Homo sapiens: one gene and its partners. The protein of the gene in region 1 purifies or fractionates together with the protein of each later gene. This does not show direct contact. Each region holds a gene or a part of one and is shown in the gene's direction. Other genes may lie near its edges.

The links.
Region 2: the proteins of C2CD4B (region 1) and FAT3 purify together in Homo sapiens (affinity purification with mass spectrometry; one large-scale study listed by BioGRID and IntAct). This does not show direct contact.
Region 3: the proteins of C2CD4B (region 1) and PPP1R15B purify together in Homo sapiens (affinity purification with mass spectrometry; one large-scale study listed by BioGRID and IntAct). This does not show direct contact.
Region 4: the proteins of C2CD4B (region 1) and KIAA0232 purify together in Homo sapiens (affinity purification with mass spectrometry; one large-scale study listed by BioGRID and IntAct). This does not show direct contact.

Annotation. Positions count from the first base shown.
Region 1 is NC_000015.10:62,163,035-62,166,717, reverse strand, and holds C2CD4B (C2 calcium-dependent domain-containing protein 4B), read left to right. Parts: upstream 1-1,432; 5' UTR 1,433-1,523; intron 1,524-1,693; 5' UTR 1,694-1,733; coding exon 1,734-2,828; 3' UTR 2,829-3,183; downstream 3,184-3,683.
Region 2 is NC_000011.10:92,346,818-92,350,317, forward strand, and holds part of FAT3 (protocadherin Fat 3 isoform 1 precursor), read left to right. Parts: intron 1-3,500.
Region 3 is NC_000001.11:204,402,881-204,405,849, reverse strand, and holds the end of PPP1R15B (protein phosphatase 1 regulatory subunit 15B), read left to right. Parts: 3' UTR 1-2,469; downstream 2,470-2,969. UniProt on the Homo sapiens protein: Maintains low levels of EIF2S1 phosphorylation in unstressed cells by promoting its dephosphorylation by PP1.
Region 4 is NC_000004.12:6,855,727-6,859,226, forward strand, and holds part of KIAA0232 (uncharacterized protein KIAA0232), read left to right. Parts: intron 1-74; exon of another isoform or gene 75-130; coding exon of another isoform or gene 131-172; intron 173-1,437; coding exon 1,438-1,504; intron 1,505-2,698; coding exon 2,699-2,780; intron 2,781-3,500.

The DNA of each region.
Region 1 (3,683 bases):
ATCAAATATTTACTAAGCCCTTACTATTTGCCTGGCATTGTATCCTGGGTGCTAGAATTACGTAGAGACGAATAAGACAGCCAGGCTTGTAGCCTGGATAAGGCAACCGGGATGGAGGCAATCCCAGTTCTTGATCTTAGGACTTTTATTTTTCATTTATTCATAATAGACTCCCGAAATCCCCTTCTGGTTGAGCTGCCCCAGTCCTTGCCCACTGAAAACCCACAAGGCTATTAGGGGGAGACAAAACTGTAAACCGAAAATTCCAAAGCAGCATGCGAACCGCAACAATGGTGGCCCCTAGATGTAGGAAGGAAATGAGGAGGGACTGAGGAACTGGAGCAGGGGAGTTCCGCGGCGGCTGGGTGGGTGAAGGCACCTGAAAGGGACGATGCGTGGGCTGAATTACAGAAAATAAACAGGAATTCCTATATAAAGAAAAAGCAGAGAAAAGGCATTTCAGATCACAGGAAGCATCACATGCAAAGCCAAAGAAACAGGAAATTGCTAGTTCCAGCTTCTGCCATTAACTGGCTCTTTTTAACCTTTCTGGAATTTCCTCAGGTCCCTCTGGGATTTCAGTCTTCACATCTCAGAAAATGAAGGTCGGGGGTGGAAAGAAGGAATCTATATTTCGGGAAGGTGCTTTCTAACTGGATACCTCCGTGCTAGAGCAAAAAAAAAGGGGTAGTTTTAAAAACGTCAAGTGTTATTTTAGGGCAGGAGCCAGAAGCCCCATGTTTTGTAACTATCAAGATGACAGGCAGAGCCTGCAGCCATTCAGAGGCTTTCTCCACTTGATCTTAGCCAAAAGACCAAGAAGCGATCAGAAATTTTCTCAACGATTAATTTACCCACTTCACCAGTACTTAGGGCATGGACTGAGCCAGGGCCTATGCTATCAAAAAGAGCACAGTCTAGCAGAGGGAGACAGACAGTAAATAAGTATATAAATAACTGGAAACCATATTGGTCTGCACGCTGCGAGTGCGTGGGGACAGGAAAACAGAAGCTCCCAGGACGTGCAGGTCACGTCCAGGTTACATGCAGGGTGAGTGACGGTTTATCTCCTAGCCAAATTAACTTCCTGTTTCCTCGTCCAGCCTCACCTTCTCCAAGAAGCCAGAAACATTTTCAGCCGCCAATTTTTCCTTGGCAGGACGACAGGGTGCCCTCTCTTCACCTGCAACCTTTCCCAGGCCTTGCCTGGGGCTCCACGCACTCACTGCAAATGCGGGTCCCAGAGCTGACCACAAGGTGCCTGCTCCCGCGACAGCTTCGCGCAGACCTGAGCGCCCAGTGCATGCAGACCTCCCGGCGTCGTGGGAGAGGGTGGCGGGAAGGCGGGCTGTGCAGCACCTCCGGGTTGGGCCGCTGGCGGCTGGGCGGGACTCAGCCTACGGTATAAGAGGGGAGCGCCACTCTCCTGGCCGCAGTACTGAAGGTGGCGCCTCGGCAGCGGGCTAGAGGCCACTGGCACTGAGCTTGCAACCAGATCCAGAGACACTGAAGAAGAGAGAAAGGTCTGAAGCGGGGCTGATTTGTTGTGGGTGCAGGGGAGAGGAAGGCTGGAACTGGTCTGGGGTCTTAAACACGTGGGGGACGTTTACAGGGTCTGGGGGAGGGATCCAGCCGCGTCGAGGGGCTGCAGCAGCTCCAGGCGCCCAAACTCAGCAGCTTCTCTCCCCCGCAGGCGCACCTCTTCCCGCCACTCCTAGCCCCAGCCTCCAAGGATGCGGCTCCTCGAGAAACTCTGTTCCTCGGCCGCAGGCAGCTCCGCGCCGAAGCCCGCCTTCGCCAAAGTGCTCACGCCGAATCGCATCCCCGAATTCTGCATCCCGCCGCGGCTGCCGGCCCCTTGCACGCTCGAGTCTCCAATCCGGGCCGCCGCCGTGCCCCGGCGCTGCGCCGCTGAAAGCGACCTGTGGCCCCGCGCGGCAGACGAGGACGCCGGCCGCACGGACTGGGACCCGCGCTCGCAGGCAGCGCTGTCACTGCCGCACCTGCCCCGTGTGCGCACCACCTACGGCTTCTGCGCGCTGCTCGAGAGCCCGCACACGCGCCGCAAGGAGTCGCTCCTGCTCGGGGGCCCGCCCGCGCCCCGGCCCCGGGCCCACAGCTGCGGCGGCGGCGGAGGCCCGGACGCCCCCCTGGGGACCCTGTGCGGCCCGCGAGGTCCGGGCCCGGCCACCCCCGCGGCCCCCGGCGGTCCCCGCCTGCCCCAGGACGCGCTCGCTGCGGGGCCCCGCCGCTGCCGCCTCCTGCGCGTCCCCGACGGGCTGCTGAGTCGCGCGCTGCGGGCTGGAAGGAGTCGCCGCCTGGCCCGCGTCCGCTCCGTCTCCAGCGGGAACGAGGACGAGGAGCGCCGCGCGGGATCCGAGTCCCCGGCCCGGGCCCCCTCCTCGAGCCCGCTGTCATCCAGGGCCCCGCTTCCTGAGCGCCTGGAGGCCAAGGGCACCGTGGCTCTGGGCCGCGCCGGCGACGCCCTGCGCCTGGCTGCTGAGTACTGTCCGGGAACCCGGCGTCTCCGCCTCCGGCTGCTCCGCGCGGAGAGCCTGTTCGGAGGCGCCCCCGGGCCCCGCGCCGTCCGCTGCCGCCTCAGCCTCGTCCTGCGGCCGCCGGGCACTGCGCGTTGGCAATGCAGCGCTGTGGTGGGGCGCAGCCGCAAGGCCTCCTTTGACCAGGACTTTTGCTTCGACGGCCTCTCGGAAGACGAGGTGCGCCGCCTGGCCGTTCGCGTCAAGGCCCGGGATGAGGGTCGCGGCCGGGATCGGGGCCGCCTGCTGGGCCAGGGTGAGCTGTCCCTGGGCGCCCTCCTGCTGCTCTGAGGGCCCAGCCCTCCCCGGGGCGCTCTGCCCTGGAGACTCCGGACACTGACAGCCGCGTGGTACAGAATAAACGTTATTTATTTTTTTATTTATGATACTGCTTTATTGACGTTTTACTTCCTCACCATCCACATTTGTCATCGTCTATTGGTAAAGAAGAAAAAGATAATGACTCCCTGTTCTGTTCACAGGACCCCCATATCTCTTTCCAGACCATTTTTGCATTCCAAGGAAAAATGGGTTGGCTTGGGACTGGGAGAGAAAGGAAGTACACCCATCTGCATTGTTTTTAATTCCTTCCGGTTTTCTATCAATGTTACAGTTTTTTTTTAATAAAGCAAGTTATTCATTCAGAGTCATGCCCAACGTTACGATTCATATACACAGCTTTACATATTGATGCGGCATAGGTAATATCCTAATTTGTGTTTGCGCACGCGCACACATCAGAGTGAGACACTTGTATTATAAGGATGTATATACCCTGGTGGGAAGAAAATTTTTTTGTAGAAAGTTTTCTTTTGGAAGTGAGTTTTTCAAAAATTGGTGAGGAAAACAGGGAAGTGGAGGACCTTCCAATAGATGGGTTATCTAGGGAATAGCTATTCCTGGGGTCTCTCTCTTCCTTACCTAGGAAATCTTAGAAATCTTTCTTGCCTCTGTAAACAAGATGATACTTTTTGTGGCATTTTCTCACCTAGCTATGTATCTAATTACACACTAATTAGCTTTGCGGTAGGATTTCCTAGATGAGTTAAAAAGTAAGTAGTCAGTTTCTTGAACACTGGGTTCTAGAGAGTGTTTTTAAAAATCCAATTGATTTTCATTTGTTAATTCAACAAATAAACCTAAGTC
Region 2 (3,500 bases), on another chromosome or scaffold:
CTTTGCTTTTAGTAAAGAAAGGACATTCTTTCCTTTACCTTTGATGGGTGTTTTTTTCTACTGGAAAATAAAACGTAGAGTAGGTTGTAAATTTTACTCCCTGTCTTGTGATTCCCAGATTTTGTCTTCTCTAAAATCTGCCTTTATTAATGATAATAGCTAACAATTATATACAATGTGCCATGAAGTGTTTTAAGTATTTTCCATTTATTAACTCAAATCCTATTCGGTAGGCATTATTGTTCTCATTTTATAGAAGAATAAACTGAGGTGCAGAGAGGTTCAATAGCTTGCCTGGGGTTGTAAAGCTAGTAAATGGCATAGATAGGATTCAAATGCAGGCAGTCAAGTGCCAAGGTGCATGTTCTGTAACCATTGCATGCTCTGCCTTTGTGTTGGCATTGGCTCTGGCACTGCATACACCAGAGCAGAGACTGATCTTCCATTTGCAGTTTGAACACGGGTCACCTTCCTCAAGGACTCCTGTCAAGGGGACTCTATATTGACTTTGTTCTTTGCTTTACAGCCTAACATAGCAAATTTCTTGAGTACCCTCCCGATTTGGCTAACAAAATCCCCTCAAAATAGAAAAGATAGGAAGAGAGGGAATGAAAATGAAATATATTTTTAAAATACCTTTGGTAGTGTTCAGAAGTCTCACCAATTTAAGCAGACCAGATTAATGTTGGCAGAAAACAGCTTTATCAGGTTACCAAAGCAAGCATAGGTACCCTACAGAGCCAAGGCTGTCCCAGAGAGGTAGTCTCTGTGATTGCTGTTCCCTGCCCCCAAGGTCTCTGGTATTTATTCATCCATGGAAAGAAAAATCTGCATGCCCTTCTGAGTCCCACAGTAAGATCCATCCTAACAGAGCAGAAGGGCAGGATGGGGAGGCACACCAGGAATGCCTCTGAAAAATAAATGTCTCAAAGATTGATGGCTTGATGATCTCTTTGGAGATTATATCAAAAATTATTGATTATGTTAGTAAGTCGTAGAAAATAGGCTCTGAGGTTGGGAACTAAGTGCTTTCTTTAAAATAATCTAGAAGCAGTAGAATAAATCAATGTGCAGAGCATCTAAAATACTGTATCATATTGGCTTCACAAATAGCTTGGCTTCAATGTGGAAAGGGCAATATTATTTTTAAAAAAAACTTCAACAGTTGTCTTGGCATGCTAAAAAGAAAAGAAGACAAAATTCAATTCTATTATTTGCTTTGCAAAATTTTACAACATTCCTAGCTTCTAGCATTCATTTATTTCCTAATCAGTGGGAAAACTGCAAGGCTTTTTAAAATAATTTGTGCCAGATAGGGCTTTTTTTTTTTCCTTTGCCACAATAAAGATACAAAAGCCTTAAAAGATATTTTGTTTTCAACAACTGAATTTGACAAACTTAGTCCTGCTCAGTTTTTTGGTGGTAGGTCTGAATTTCAGTATGTGATAATACTACTCCATTTATGCTTGTTTTGAAATATTTTCTATTTGCATTTAAGACCACCGATTCCGGTTTTTAAGAAAACAATTCCAGCAATGTATCTTGCTGAAAGAAAAACTCACTATGCAAAAGCACCAATTTTTGAATAGTTAAATTGAATGATACATTTTCATATTATGATAGCATTCTTTGCCTTGAAAGATTCACAGAAAGATTTGTAAAAAGTAACTATCCCCTTAGGGCACTTTAATGTTTATTTATAAACAGTTAACTACTTAGAGGAAGAAATAACACCAGGGAGAGTAATATGGTGTCAGAAAAGGAAGATGACTCCAAAATAATGATAAACCACAGCTCTAAAATTTTAATGTAACTTAATGAAAACTAATTCAATTGAAGCGTGTTTCAGTTTGGTATTAGCTCTGAACCTGGGAAACTTGAGTCCTGGCATTAGGGGAATCTCTTCATTTTATGGACCCTGGTTTCTTCATCTGTAAACTCAGGAGATTGGAACAGATGATCTTTAAGGCTCCTTTGAACCTGTATAATTTCTTGATTCAGTTTCCTGAAGTAAGATGTGCTTTTTGTTGGGGAATAGGAAACGGAGCATATTAAAGGCATCTGGGCCTCTGGTTACATTAGTACTTAGGGTTCTGTTCAACAAACCAGTGTTGTTTGCTTCCTGTGTGGTGGGTGCTGTACTGGATGCTGGGAATAGAGTGATGTACTTCCCATCAGGTTTCCTTAAGTAGAAGTTCAAAGTGTGAATGAGGGGGCAGACTCAGAAAAGTTCAGTTGAACTGTATTTTTCATGGGGGAAGTTTTCCTCTCTGATGACCATGGAGTCTAGACTCCTTGGGCTAAGGATCGGCAAAATTACTGTTACAGGAAGTCTTCTCAGCACAGGATAGTGAGTGGGAAATAAGGCAGAAACTTTATTTGTATTTCTCTGGAGCATTCTGGGAGTGATCCCAGTATTTCACCTTGAGAGAGTGTAACCTAACCTTCACATTCCCTTACGAGAGACTCGCTTACTTTACCGTGTTCACATGTCCACAGTGAGCCTAAAAATGTCTCCACTGCTTTGGAGCCTTTTGAGATGATGAAATAGAGACTCCTGAGGCATACAAAATACTATTAAAGCTTCTGCTAGTGTACTTCTGTGATCACTACAGAGAGGTTCTTTTGCTCCCATATTTCAGTTGACTGTGCTCTACAAAGTAGACACCCCAATCACACTGTGGGCTTCGCCACTCTGCTAGGTAGGACATTTGAACCTACTGCATCCAGAAAACCCCAAATGTATCATTTTCTTAATAAAGTTTCCTTTGAAATGACCAGCAGCCCAGTGATGTCTTTCTAGGAACTTACTGAGCAGGGTCACCAGCGGCCATCTGACTTGGTCCCTGCCCTAGTTACCAGAGCTGCTGTCCACAGGCTGCCTGTTCCACTTACTTAGCATATGCAATGTCTCTAAAGAACTGCATGTGAAATTAACTTCCTTTATAGACGCTTACTCCCTTTTTCAGCTTTTCATTTTTGCTGTCTATTAATGCCTGTAAAGTCCCTAAATTAAACTTGACTTTTTCTATCTGTAACTCCATGTTTTCTACGGGATACTTCAGCAAATGATAGCAGCAAGATATCTTACATTCCCAGGCAGAACCAGCATTTGCATGCTCAGGGTTTCACTTCAGGAGAGTCTCCTGTAAGGTGGAGCTGAAAAAAAAAAAAAAAGAAAAGCCTTGTGGGGTATGGAGAGAGCCTGAGCTCTAATCTAGAGTCTGCTAGACTCTATCAATGACTATTAAATTTAGACAGTTTCCACAGTTTCATGACTATGTGGGTTAAAAGGTAAAAACTTTTTCCTATTTTAGCCAGTAAAATTAATCAAGGAGAGGGGAGAAAGGAGGTATTCAACAAGAAAAAGTTAAGTCTATTTAGACTTAACTAATAAAGTCGAGATAGGAAAATGAGGTTTTATATTATCATTAACAAAAAGGTTATAATAATATGTGCCTTGCTAACCTTGGATATGAAAGGGTTTTATAAACCATACA
Region 3 (2,969 bases), on another chromosome or scaffold:
GTGCTTTTAAATGTCCTTTGCCTGCATGAGGTGGAAAGGGGACCTTTTTGAGTTGTCATTTTGCACTTTCAAAACTTATTTTCTTGGAAAACAATATTTATAGGGCTTAAAGCCCATTTTCATTTCTAATCTAAATTATGTGTGCCTATCTGAAAACTTTGGGCTCTTTCTTGTTTCTTTCCCAAAATTCAGAAGTTAATGGGCTTTTATGTTTTTCTATATTTTTTTTATTTCAATGATTTGGCCTGTCTATGTTAGGCTAAAAAATAACCTTGTGTATGCTACCAACTTAAAGTGCATTATTTTGTGTCACTTTTTTTTTTCTTGTAAAAATGACTTGGATTGAAAATATGTGGTAGCCTTTTTATTTCTACATTAAGTTCTACCTAGGATATTTCCAAGGACTGCCACAAAACCCATATGTGCAGTACTTTACTACTTTGGGAAAGCTGCATCTTTCTACCACATTTTAACATCTAATATATTTAATTTCTTTGAAGAGGGTTCTGTGTACGTTATTGTAGTTCCCAGTTTAATATAGTTCTTTGTATCTCTTAACAGGTTGAAGTTATTGCAAAACACTCTGGAAAGTAATAATTACATCATAATCATTTATTTTTTAAACTTAAAAGCCTAGAAATTTCCTAGAAAGAAAATAGGAGACATCTCAGAGCAATTTGGTTTTGGTGTATATGTTCTCAACAGAAAACCAGTGTTAATGAATATCATGCCTCAGCACTGTCACTTTTAAAACCTGTCAGGATCCCACTGTAAAATTGGAAATGGGCAGTTCTGAATTTTCACGTTTGAAATGTAAAATATAAACTTCAGTCAATATCCAGGTTTATTGTGTCCTACTATTTAATAATGAGAGAAGTAATGGCAAGGCCTTTACTTTCAGGAAAGGATAGAAGTATAGATTAATGACTGGAAAGTTTTAATATATTTAGCCCAAAGGTTACTTTGAATTGAAGTCTTTGCATTGACTGTTTGTGTTTGGTTTATTTGTTTAGCTTTACAAGGTACACATAAGTTAGGTTGAGGGGTTGTTAACCCTTCCGTGGTCTGCTTTCATTCCGTGTGCTTCCTGTCACAGGTAATGGAAAACATAAGTAGAATAGGTGACCTCTTAGTTTTGAACTTATTTAAGTGTGGGGATGAATTTTTCATCAGAAGTGCTTACAGGGTTACTACCTCAGTTTACAATCTACCTGGTCATTATTTTATTTCTATCCAGTTCTAAGAACTGCCTCCACTGTTTATATATTCATAATTAAACACATTGAGAATGCAACACTATAAAAGCTGGTCAAATTTTTGCAGAGCCCTTATTCTGTGTGTTTTTTGTTTTTTTCTTTTTTTTTTGAGACAGAGTCTCGTTCGGTCCCCCAGCTTGGAGTGCAGTGGCGCGATCTCGGCTCACTGCAACCTCCGCCTCCTGGGTTCACGCGATTCTCCTGCCTCAGCCTCCCGAGTAGCTGGGATTACAGGCACACACCACCACGCCCGGCTAATTTTTTGTGTCTTTTTAGTAGAGACGGGGTTTCGCTATGTTGGCCAGACTGGTCTTGAACTGCTGACCTCGTGATCCGCCCGCCTCGGCCTCTCAAAGTGCTGGGATTCTGTGTGTTTTGTGCACCTCCACTTTAGGTAATCATAGGGAGCACATTTACAGGATGGTCTAATAACATGAAAACAGGCTAGTTTCAAGCAACAGCAATGTCGGTTGGAAAGCAGGCGTCATTTGCCTTGAAAAAAGCCTTTTGACAACATACAGGCATTCTTTTAAAACCAGGCTGAAACATTTTATTTCCGAGACTTAACGTTGTGTTTCCTGTTTCTTAAACCTAGCACCTCTGTGTATTTGAAAATAATGAGACATCTTTCATTGGATTTTGGAAAATTGTTCCCCATGGGATTCTAACCTCACTACCAAATGAGTGAAAGCTTGATTAAGAGTTCTTCCATATACTAGCCTCCTTGGAAGAAGTGATCAGAAGGTGATAAGAAGGACAGAAAGGACTATTTTAAAGTTGGACTGAAGGAGAAAAAAGCAAAATTCTTGTTTCATCCCAATTCTAGTTAGAACAAAGTTAAACCCCCGTAATCTTAAAGAGAAAATCTTTGGAGGTTTTAATTAAACATTTTATACATTTAAAGTCTTGTTAATGGTGCTTTAAGTGTCAATGTAGCATGTAAAAGGCTTTGTACAGACAGGTAAAAGTTCCATTTCTGAGTGATGAAATGTAACACTTCTTCATCTTTAACTTGAAATCAAAACTATCAGATTTTATTTTTGTATAATTTAAGGAAGGTAAAGTTAGGGGACTAGAAGACTCTAAATTGGCTTCTACAGATCAATAATTTAAATGTAACTAGTTGGGATTTTATAGTTAAAATTATATTTGTGTATATAACATAACTAATCTGTAAATTGTAATAAATATATTTGCAATTATTAAATGTTAAGTGATATTTTGGTTCAACTTTATATTATATGTATCATAGTATTTTACAATGGTTTTGGAATTACTAAGCAGGATTAGTATAATTGCAAACAACATTTTAGTAATAGAAGAACTTGGTTCTTGCAGTATTATGAGAGGCCCTTCTAAGAAACTGAAGATTTGATTCTGAAATTGGCCCTAGCTTTTCAGTTTTGCTGCAAAGAAAATTAAACTGGGTATTCACAGAAGCAATAACATTCAGATGCTGGGCTTAGCCTAGTGCTTAAGTAGCAGGGAAATCTCTGTTTTGTGCATTATTATTATTATTATTTTTTGAGACGGAGCCTCTGTCACCCAGGCTGCATTGAAGTGGCACGATCTCAGCTCACTGCAACCTCCACCTTCCGGTTTCAAGCGATTCTCCTGCCTCAGCCTCCCGAGTAGCTGGGATCACAGGCACCTGCCACCATGCCCGGCTAAATTTTGTATTTTTAGTAGAGATGGGGTTTCATCATGTTGGCC
Region 4 (3,500 bases), on another chromosome or scaffold:
CCCTAGAGGTTCAGTGTTCTGCATTGCGAGACTAGCCCTAGGTTTAGAAACCTAGTGACATAGGCTTGCTGTACAGAACAGTATGCAGTGTGTCAGCTGACACTGGTGTTGGTTTCACGATCCGAAGGAAATGGAATATAATTGCCGTCCTTGTCACACCTTGAGCATTATGGTAAGCAGGTGCTTTCTGGTGCAACTGTTTGTGGTTGAACAGTGTTTATGACTAATATCTGCCATCGTTTTTAAGAGTGTTTTTAAAGGAAAGGGCAACTCTTGTCTGGCCTATTTTTCTATCTTCCTATTAAAACCTGTGGTATGACGTGGACAGAATGTAACTCTAGATGTTTACAATTAACTGTTTTCATTGTAATCTGTTTCTTGCTACTCAAACTGTGTAACCGTGGGATTTCTTATGTAGGATATCTATAATATTTGTGCTGAGTCATTTTGAGTTAAGTGAATGGGGTAAAGTTCTATTTTTAGCCCGTCAAGGCCTAGTGAGGGCACTGGCTTAGCAGAACTCTCCATCACGCGCATCTGTTTGGGTTATGCCCACCAATAAGGACTTGATTCCAGTTTAAATAGGACTTTGGTCACTGAATAAATCTAAAGTTTCTGAGAAATACATTGACTTTTTTTGTCCACTGTAAAAAAATTTTTTTTTCTTCCTGTGAGAAATTGAGACTCTTAAAAGTTAAAGTCTACTAATGAAAGATTATTTGCTTGTGCCTGTTTTCTACATTCATTTTTCTTTAAAGGTTGACTCTTATTTTTACCCTCCCAAATCCAGACTCTTCTATGTACTCTCCTTAAATTTTAAACTCCCAAGCTTTGTATAGAAGTCGATAATCTGGTCCAGATGCTGAAAAGAAGACAAAGCTTTCACATTTGCAATATTGGCTTCATTTTCTGGACTTCTGTTGTTTTAATCATGAGTGTTCATGTTTCTTTAAAACAGAAAAAAAAAAAATCACCTTGTTTTCTTCAGGGTGTGAGCTCCTAGAGAACTAAGATGAGGTTTTGTGATTTTCCTTTGTTTTAAGTCTGGTATAAGATCTCGCTCACATAAATATTTAATACTCTTTTTGATGGTGACTGACTTTTGGTCGTATGATGGACATTTAGGCCCTTAAATCTGCCCCATGAGCAAGATGACACACCTTTGGAAAAACAGAAGCTATTCTGGGAGGTACATGAATATGTTCACATTTTATCACTAAGTTTCATTTAATATGCCTTATTAGTAATAAGCATGTATACCAATTTGTATCTACAAACCTATAATTTTTAAACTGTAGTATTCACGTAAATATTGGTAAGATATTTATTTTGGAATGTGGATGATTTGTAAAACCTGTGTATTAAAACAAAAGTATACAAATACCTGATTTGTACATACCTGGCTGTAACCTAATGTGTCTTTTTGTTGTCATGCAGAGCTCTGGTATCGAGACTTTAGTGGAGGAGCTCTGCTCCAGACTGAAAGACCTTCAGAGTAAGCAAGGTGAGGTCAAAAGCACTGTGCGCACACATGCCAGGATTACATCCCTGAGGAATCTGGATTGGGGAAAATCTTAGAATTGATCAGAAAAGAAAACAACCAGAACAAAGTCTTTGTGTCCAGTGTGTGTCACTAGGCCAGCCTCATGCTCCATCTGCAGCTCTGTTAGTGGCTTCTGTGTCAGACCCAGCAGTCACTCATAGAGATTCCTGCAACCAAGGGAGGGACTTAGTCCACAGGTGCCCTCAGAGATAGGAAACACTTCATGGTTTTCTGTTTTTTGGGTTTTTTTAATTGTTGTTGGCTTCAAGTTGAAGCTCAGAGATCAGGAACAATATTGTCTCTTTCCTTTCCCCATCCTTGCCCCTCTGTTAATATCTGCCTGTTGATGTTAAGACTGCTAAATTACGACATTAAATTAAGATGTTAAGACATGAATTACTTCAGGTTTGGAAGGGACTTCTGTTTTGACTCAGCTTTTTTGAAAACACAGACTTGGCAAGCTTATTTAGTTATTTCGATATATGAATCCTCCTCATACTTTTTCTAACTTGTTTGCAATCCCTAAGAACGAGACCTTCATATTAAGGGTGAGGATCCTTGTTTCCTTGCCCTCTTTATGGTCATTTTGCTGCCCACCAAGCCTTGAGCCTGCCTCTTAAGGGCACAGTTGATTTGTAACCTAAGGCAGTATCCTAGGCTAAACTAAGGGATAGCCCTTTTTCCTGTTTCAGTTGAAATAGCCCTTGCTCACCTACATGTTAAGTAATAGAGCAAATTGTAATAAAGAATATTCTTTACAGATTAGTTTTGGTCAAGATGAGTCAATGTAAAGTCTATGAGTGTAGAATTTTGTGAGAAAATAGTTTTGGAATCTAAACAGATGTTCTGTCCTTCTGGTCTAATTAATAAGTACACAGGGGACTTCAGTCTCTTAATTAAGTGCCTCTAGAGCACTGTATCAGTGACGAGATGAACAACTCTCACCTCTTGGCCTAATGCTAATGTGGTTTAATCGGAGAATTCCCTCTGGCACACTGAAAAAATAGATTTTTATTAAAAAGATCGGTATTGAGTTTGCCTTTTAAGCACCAAAGTCTCTATTTCTTGTTAAAATTAGTTGAGAAACTTTGAAATACATTAGCATTTATTAACTAGATATAAGACAAATCTTTCTTAATTTTTGTTTCATAACAGAAGAGAAGATTCACAAAAAGTTAGAGGGGTCTCCCTCTCCAGAGGCAGAATTATCCCCTCCAGCAAAGGATCAAGTGGAAATGTATGTAAGATTGTATTCGGTAATAAAGTGTGCATTTGTTAAAATCAGATGAATAACTGCTACATGGTTTCCGTTTTCTGTTTGTCATCTTGTTTAGTTTCATTATATATAATGTAAGAAACATTTATCGAGCGCTTATATGCTTGACACTGAGAATTCAAAGGTGAAACAAGATGGTTCTGTCCTTGGTGTTCATATTCAATATTTGTGGAACAAATGAGTGAAACATAGAAGGTTATTATTTGCTAAGTCTATGTATGTACTATTACCTTTAATATTCACAACAGCCCTTTGAGACAGCTGTGAGAAATTAGGATTATCAGCCGGGCACAGTGGCTCATGTCAGTAATCCCAGCACTTTGGGAAGCCAAGGCAGGTGGATCACCTGAGGTCAGGAGTTTGAGACCAGCCTGGTCAACATGGTGAAACCCAGTCTCAAATATTAGTTGAGCATGGTGGTACATGCCTGTAATCCCAGCTACTCAGGAGACCGAGGCAGGAGAATTTCTGGAACCCGGGAGGCAGAGGTTGCAGTGAGCTGAGACTGTGCCATTGCACTCCAGCCTGGACGACAGAGCGAGACTCTGTCTTATTAAAAAAAAAAAAAAAAAAAAAAACAAGAAAGAAAAGAAATGATTATCCATGTTCACAAGCAAGAACACTGAGTTCCCACTGTTTACTGCAGAGGGAACATAGGCAATCCTTGACCTGCCAAACCTG